Regions from separate parts of the Homo sapiens genome. Here region 1 is linked to region 2. Evidence: fine-mapped expression QTL. Tissue or cell type: monocytes. Region 2 holds a variant in brackets; the other region holds the start of a gene. All regions are shown on one strand. Distances are between the middles of the regions.

What was found. PIP is the estimated chance that this variant, and not a neighbour inherited with it, causes the effect. A credible set is the group of variants that fine-mapping cannot tell apart.
Region 1: it holds the start of CD180, and the variant in region 2 is the best candidate, but not a certain one, in a credible set for the expression of CD180 in monocytes (Quach 2016, PIP 0.69).

Annotation. Positions count from the first base shown.
Region 1 is chr5:67,195,013-67,199,157 of GRCh38, forward strand. CD180 (CD180 molecule) reads right to left here and starts at 1,787. Exons shown (of 3, transcript NM_005582.3): 1 at 1,540-1,787. The coding sequence starts at 1,629. RefSeq lists an enhancer at 611-760.
Region 2 is chr5:67,146,452-67,150,805 of GRCh38, forward strand. MAST4 (microtubule associated serine/threonine kinase family member 4) reads left to right here. Exons shown (of 29, transcript NM_001164664.2): 24 at 2,938-3,138. Among named protein-coding and RNA genes, the nearest start is that of CD180, 48 kb to the right of the region's middle. The variant A/C (reference allele first, on the strand shown) is at 2,399.

The sequences.
Region 1 (4,145 bases), 48 kb after region 2:
CACAGGAAAGGCCATGAGAGGACACAGAGAGAAGATGGCCATCTGCATGCCAGGGAGCGAGGGTGCAGAAGCAGCAAACTCTGCCAACACCTTGATCTTAAAATTCCAGCCTCCAGAACTGTGAGACAATCAATTTCTCTTGTTTAAGTCACCTAGTCTATGGTATTCAGGGTTTTTTTGGTTTGTTTTTGTTTTTTGGTGTATTTTTGGTTTGTTTGTTTTAAGACAGAGTCTTGCTCTGTCGCCAAGGCTGGAGTGCGGTGGCACAATCACGGCTCACTGCAACCTCTGCCTCCCGGGTTTGAGTGAGTCTCCTGCCTCAGCCTCCCGAGTAGTTGGGATTACAGGCATGTGCCACCATGCCCAGCTAATATTTGTATTTTTAGTACAGATGGGGTTTTGCCATGTTGCCCAGACTGGTCTCGAACTCCCAGTCTCAAGGCATACACCCACCTTGGCCTCCCAAAGTGCTGGGATTATAGGCGTGAGCCACCACGCCTGGCCCAGTCTGTGGCATTTGTTATGACAGCCCAAGCAAAGCAACACACACCTTCCCAGCCTTCATTTCTCATTGGCATGATGCCTCCTCTTGGCCTGCTGCTGATTCCATCCTAATGCCAGACCAACAAGGCTCTGCTCACCCAGCTCTGAGCCTTACCCCAGTGCTGGCTTTGCTCTGCTCTTCCTGATCCTCTGATCTCCTTCTAGTCCTGCCCCAGGGCAACTCCACATCTGGCTATTCCTGGCTCTTACTCTTCTTTTTACCTCAACCCAGACCAGCAGCTCACCAAGCCACCAAGACTCATGGTTCCTCCTGTATGCAGCCCTTGTCTGACAGGCCACGTGGTATTGATCACTTGTGGGGTCAGAGAAAGTGGGAGGAAGTTTGAAGCATTTTAGAGGATGGCAAGAGACGGAGGCCCTTCTCCTTTTTCTCTCATTATCCCCTCCAAGAACTTCCCACAGGTTGATAAATATTGCTATGGTCCAAAACAGAAGGTGCAATTTGGCTCTATTCTCAGATTTTCCTCCTATGGGTTAGTAAAACAGATGGAAGGCTGTCCAAGTCCAAGAGAGAGCCAGACTCATTCAGAGTGATCTTTTCAATGCTCGAAAACCTGGCACAGCGCTGTCTTTACTAATTCTCACCCTGAGAGGAGACCAAAGGACTCATTGGGATAGAGGCCATGTGAGAGTGGGGATGTTAAACCAACAGCTCCCCTAGGTTGAGGCAGGTTTAGGGGTCTGCTTTGTGCACACAGACCCTATTAATATCTTATGACCCACTTGGGATTATTTGGGTGGAATTGTTTGAAGAGGAGAAAAATTCTCTTTGCTTCCTATTAAGATGCCACCAGATGATCCCCTGGCAGAGTTCTTTGGCTCCTTTCTCACAATAATGAAAAAATTATATATACACCTTATTTCCTTTTTAAAGACACTAGATATTGGGATGCCAAGGCTCAGATTGGACTGCGTGCTAAATCTCAAAATTTTCAGACAGTTTAATCTGCATAAAGACAAACAGTTTGGACTCACCTCAATGCACATCTGATCCCAGGAGGTGATGACTTTACAGCCGGCAGAAAACAGCACCACCCAAAAGAAGCAGCTGACGTCAAACGCCATCACAGGCTAGGATTGCTTGGTGGGTTTACCTAATGCTTGGAGCTGAGAAATGGAATCAAACTGTGAAGGCCCTGGCAATTTGGCAGCCAGAGAGGTACTCAGAAGGGTGATCTTGGAACAAGAAATGCTGTTGACTGCTCAGCATTCTGTGGCTCTGTGCTGGAAAAAAAAAAAAAAAAAAAAAAGGAAGTCCCTTTTGCATACCACCCATCTTTGCCAAAAATAACTGAGGACCCAACCCCAGAATGGCCCGTTGCATTTCCTGGCACTGAACATGAATCAGTTGTGCAGTCCTTTTGGGCTGATCACACAGACTCTCATTGTGATGGTTCCAATTGACTTTATGCCAACTTCAAGCATTTGGCCAACTCCAACAGCTTCTGGTCCTTTTCCCCGAGAGAGGCTGTGGAAGCTCTACTCACCAAGGAGGCCACTTTCTTAGTTGTCCTAGGTGAGTGAATAGAAGAGGTGTCAGAGAACATGGAAGGGCAGAGCACTCTGCAGGGGCAGACTGAAGAACTGAGCCCTTCAGTGGCACCTGCTGAGCTGGGAACTGGAGCAGGAGGGAGCAGGCTTGAGAGTGTATCTGCTCCTTGAGCCTCAGCTGCTGCCTTGGCCACCTTGTCCATCCCCACCTCTGGTCTTCGTATAGGGGGAAGATTACTTCATCTCTTGACCTGGCGGTTCAGGCTTGTTAAAGCAGTTGGGGTGGACTCTCTTGTTCCCTCCTAACCTGGCCTGGGGAAGTAGGGGACACTGCCATAGATAGAGCAGCCTGGCTAAAGGAGAGTAGAGTTAGGGATGCCAGCCTTGGCTCTATTTCTTCTTAGAAATAGCTTTGAAGCAGGATTACAATTACCCTTATTATGGAGCAAGATGTGGCAATGATTAAAGAAAGCCAAAGTTCAAACATTCCTCAATAGGCTGCATTTAGCTACCTGTTCTGTCTGTTCTTCAACCCTCTGGCATACAGGATATATTTGGTGTTACTGTTCTCCCACTCCATTTCCAAGAGCCCAGTTCTTAGTATCAGAGTTCACAATGACTTAACTACTGCTACTACTACTACTACCACCACCACCACCACCACCACCTCTACAGTATTACTATGATGAATCAAATGACTATAGTATCTGCCATTTATTGAGTCCTTACTATGTGTCAGACACTGGGTCAGGTTTAATGCAGTTTTTTGCTGCATTTTCCTATCCTCGAATATTTCCATATATTCTATAAGAGAGATATTATTATTTCCCTCATTTTATAGATGTAGAAACTGATGCTTAAGAGAAATTAAATGATCTCTCCAAGCCACACAATTAGAGAGTGGTAGATTAGGGCTTCAGATCCAGAAAATCTCACTGCAGAGACTATGCTGCTACTCTTCACAGTTTAAGAAAGGACTTTGCCTCCTGAAGGAGCTGAAGAGTAGATGGGGCGAAGAATGTTGTTCATCTGGAGATTTCAGAAAAGATGCTAAAAAGCAGAGGGGATTGGAGGAAATATGTACTTGGCAGTCTGCTAGGCCTGCTACACATATTTGGGCTTTTCCTGGTCACCCTTAAAATGCCATCTTCATCAACAAAATCATCTCTGAAGATGCTATCAGCAAGACACAGTCTAAGCAAACCCAGACCAATGACGGACCACCTTGCTTCAAATAAGACATCCATCAGTGTATATTAGGAAGAGCTGAGAACTGGGAAGAGTCTAGTGGTAGACCGCAGATCCTTGCTTACCAACTGAGTGACCTTGGGCAAGTCATTTCACTTCTCTAAGTCCGTTTTCCCATCTGAAAAACAAGAATTATAATTCCTCTTCTGCCTACATCACAGAGTAATTATGAGGATCAAATAGGATCATGTATGTGAAAATGCTTTTCTTATCTTAAAGTCCCACATAAATATGCAGAATGTGAGGCAAAGACTGAGTAACGAATTCCAATGTCGTGTAAATATCACTCTCAGGAAATTGTCTCCTGCCCCAGAGATGTTGAAAGGCATATTACTTTCCTTCTTAAAGAAAGGTCTGATGGCTCAGTTAAGGCCATCAGATTTTGTCATTTTCTTAAGCTATATCATTTGCATATGATTTACATGTGTTTGCATAATGAATTCAAAAGACTCACTGCAAGTATATAAGAGTAAAATAAAATGAATGAATATGAGTGACCTTCTGCCACGGTATTCAAATCACATATTCAGGGCATAATACCCTGAAATATGAAATAGATTAAAATGTAAACTATTGCAAACAGATGAGAAGATAGGTTTTAGAGTTTAGAGGCAAGAATGAAACCTTATTTGGTCCCAGAATTTGGATATAAAGAACCACATCCTCTTACAGGTCACCTCATCCAAATGATGTTCATGCCTGAATTCTCTCCTACACACCCCTAATTCACCCCTCTCTGTAGACAAAAACATACTCTCTGAATTATTTTTCAGTCTATTATGAAATGCCTCAGGTGACAGAAAACTCATCATCCCTCACCCCCCAATGGTTTTGGCCAAGTT
Region 2 (4,354 bases):
AAAAAATGAGAGATGTATATGGCTTAGAATTGCTGTAATGAATGTTTTCATTAAGCTACGTTCAATATGCTGTATTGATAACCATGAATGATTCCAAGATTTTTCGTCAACATTTTTTAAACTAACTGAATATTCATAGTGTAAGCTTTTTTTTAATCATTTCAGGAAAAATTTTATGGGCTGGATTTATTTCAACCTCACTAAGAAGTTTGGATCTGTGAAGCTTCACATGTGCTTATAGTTTATTGTGGGGGAAAATAATGTTGGATTTTCTTCTCTGTCTTCACTTCAGTTCTGTTTTCATGTTGCGTAATTCCACTTATCCTAATCATAAAGCCAAGAGAACAGCAATGAGGAAGTAGTGTAAAGGCAACCTATTAGACTAAGATGCCTGACCATCTCTAGTTCATGCTGATGCTCAGATCATATGTAGATATCTTGGTATTTTCTATTCCTGGTTACAAAGGCCTTTATCTGGTTCTTAGTTACCTTACTCTGAATAGAGTATATTCACCTCCATTTAAAATTTTTTTCTTAATATAGTGAACTGTTTACTATCTCTTAGTCTCCTCAGCCTGCTCACTACCGGAAAGGTAGGAGGGGAAGGGAGGGGAATCGTGTCTAAGCATTTGATTGATTACTTTCATAATTAAAAAAAAAATTCACCTAGGTCCTGCCATGCATTTTGATTAATAGATTCACACCATCTTTCTCTCTCTCTCTCTCTCCCCCATACGCACACTAAAAATAATCAAAGGCCTTGGGGGCTGTGCAGAATAGAGAGATGAGCTGATTTGCTTATAGCCAAGGGTAATTAGGAAGTCTGAAAACCGTGACTGTAGTAAAATTAAATTTGTTGATTTTTATATTGCTCCACCACCAAAAAGAAGGAACCCTTGACATTTAGAGAACATTAAAGTGACATTATCTACCATTGGCAGAAAAGAAGCTCACGCTTATATGCAGTGCTGCAAAATAAGATGGCAGAGGCAAGAGGGAGAGGTGACACAAGGTTGTATATCCACACTCTGGCATTTAGGGAAGTACAACTTTATACATGTTTCTCTTTTATCATGACTACATTGTGTTTGAAGCCATGAAAAATAAACGTCTTGAAGTCTTAGATGTAGGGGTCAAACGTATCCAACAATTACTCATTGTAAAGAGATTCAGCTTTTCATTTTATACTTGTCAGTGATCCCATCCAAACCAAATTACAAAGAAGGAAGTGTGTACCTTACTCAATGGGAAGCTTAAGTTTTGTGAGATGAGATTTATTACTTGTGAAGCAGTTTTTATCAAGACCTTCAGTAGCTGATTTCTGTAAGAGAATGGAATATTCTGTTAAATGAGAATGAGTTTAGCATATAGGAGTAAAAACATTGATATTTGCCTTAAGGTTATCTCCCTTTGTTGGTCAGATGGGTGTTATGTGGAAGTCCATGAATCTTTTCCTGTACATATGCACAGTAGATGACCACAAAGTGTGCTATGACTAAAGCTGCTGTCCAAGTTCCCAGCTACCCTTAGCCTAGACCACAGCTGTAAGATCTGAACTTTGTCCATGAGCGTGGGCCAAACTACAACCATACCACTGAGTGGTATATAGACAGCAGTGTAAGAGAAATGCTAGTTGAGTCTAAGTCTAACTCTTTCCCAGGCAAACAGTGTCATATGGTCAGCACTTCGAAATGTGCTGGCCGCTCTTTCAAAGGATCATTTATAGTGGTGTTAATACTCTGCATGGATTGTATCTCTAAAGGTGATGAGACAGTTGATGATTTTTAAGCACATGGGGCTTATAATGTAGCATGTAGAAGTAAAATGAGATGAGCATTTTCTCTCCTGGATGGACAAAAATGTGCTATCAATGATGTTTTTAAAGAAAAACACGATAGAAAACCGATAACCTGGGAAAGAAAAAGTAGGACAAATCAAAAGGAATAGCTGTTCAGCTTCCTTCTGGGGGACTCAAAATGTCACCCTGCTGCAGAGCTTTCTTTACTCTCGGCCTCTGCATTCACCAGACCAGGGTCAGTGATGTTCCATTTCTGCACCCCCCTCCATATTTATCCTCTCTTACGCTCCGTTGTTGAGGGAAGCCCTAATTTTTTTTAAGTTAAAAATAACTCCAGTTTATATTAAAGATTAACAAAATTAAAAGTAAAGAAGGTGTGGTTTAGAGGGGAGAGGAAATAGCATGAGGGAGGATCAGCATATGATACACTGGATTAAAAGCCAGCAGGATGAAGTGAACTTGAGTAATGGAGGGAGTAATATCCTTTGTCTTGCTTGTCCTTTGAAATGTACAGGGAGCTTAGAATGAAAGGAGGCATATGGCCTGAGAAGTGAGAAGAGACACTTTAGGCACTTTTCTATCAGTTACTTGCCTCAGCCT[A/C]GTATGAGGTGTGTTCTAACAGCACAGACGTAAGTCTACAGGGAGTGATGAAAAAATGTCCACAGGTCAAAATTATAATTAACAGCATTGATAATGATAATCATCAGTATCATAAGGTAATCACAGTATGAAGTGGGCGGCCATGGTGTTTGGGAGGTAATATTTGATTCATGGCACAGCCTTTCATGGTATGGGGGGGGTAGGGGCACCAGAATTATCTCTGCAAGGTTTCAAAAATATAGATTGTTGAAAGAAACTAATTCCTCTGGTTACATGGAGTCATGGATTGAGAATTAGCAGACTTGTGTACAGGTAGAATGAAGCCTGAATAGATGCCTCTTCCATCTCTTCCTCCTCCACGTCACCTTTCTCAAAGCAATCACATGTTGTTAATGTTCGCCTGACACCGTCTGGACTTACTGGCCACATAGGAGTATGTTCTCTGGCGTTTACTCTTCCTGCTGTCTCTCTCTTCCCGTCTTCCCACCTCTCCTATCCTGGATTTTCCTGAATGTGTTTATCCCTTCTTCTTTGTACAGTTGGCAGTTTTTCAGAGCACTTGGATCAGATAAATGGACGAAGCGAGTGTGTGGACAGTACAGATAATTCCTCAAAGCCATCCAGTGAACCCGCTTCTCACATGGCTCGGCAGCGATTAGAAAGCACAGAAAAAAAGAAAATCTCGGGGAAAGTCACAAAGTCCCTCTCTGCCAGTGCTCTTTCCCTCATGATCCCAGGAGGTAGAGAGATACTACTTGCATGAAATTGTGTGATTTGTGCATGTGGTCCCATCCCTCCTCTCCCAATTTGGAATGCTGAATGAGATGCAAGATTGCTTGAAGTAATAACGGGTCATGTCCCAGGACAGCTCTTGAGAGCTTCTGCCTGCAGACTCTGAATTCTTCCTGCAGGATTTGTAGGGCCGCCAAGGAGCATTTTGGCCTATTTCATCTCACTTTCTGCATCAGGGGTACAAGAGAGGCTTCCTTCCCATGAAAGCTTGTTTCTGTTTTGTTTCCTTTCGTTTTCTTTTCTCCCTCCAAGTTAAATGATAAATTTTCCTTCCTTGAATAATTTTTTTTCTCTAGAGTATGTATAATTTATACACTTTATAGAGCTGTTTACAACATTTGTGTTGGAAAGCTAAGTATATAGTTTTTCTCATCTAATTAATGAGGAAAATAGTTAAGCTTTTCATTTCTGGAGATAGAGTCACAGACAGCATTGAAATTCTAGGTTTTCCCAACCCTGTCAGTTGAGCTATGCTTCCTCCTACTGGTAGCAAATCATCTTCTGCCCTGTTTTGGAAAACTGGGCTTAATTAAGGTTTTGTTGAATTGTAGTATTTTCCCACAAACTGGTTTTGCCACTACTGATCACTAACTCTGTAGTAATCCCACTGGCAGAAATGAAATATACACCCTGATGGTTGTGATATCACTCAAATGACAGCAAGAGAGTAGAATGGGACTCGAATTATATTGCAGATGGCTTGTTTTTGGAAGAAAACAGATCATGTATAAAAGGCATTGTTTATGTTTTTGAAGCTTCATATTTGTGCAGAAAGCAATTTGACATAAACAAATGCTCATTTGGGAGTAGTGCTCAATCTAGCAGATTCAGTTTCTGGGAGGTGTCCTGTTTAGCACCATAAAACAAACACCTGTATCCCTAGTCTGTGTGACTCTTCATAAGCTGAAGATGATGGTCCTGGTGCAGCTGCACAGATGGGAAGGTAAGTTGGATATGGGCCAGTGCAGTTTTGAAAGCTGGTTAGGAAGCCCGTACTTTGGTAGAACAAGGAAATTATTTGATTTGGGGAGATAAGGGAGACCATCAGAAGGTAAAGAAGTGGGGGCCTGGCCTTTCAGCAGTTTGGGATCTATGTGTGTCCACAGTGACCTCCTCCCACCTGCATGTCTTGAAGTTCCCTGCCTGCCAGCATGCATCTCTTCC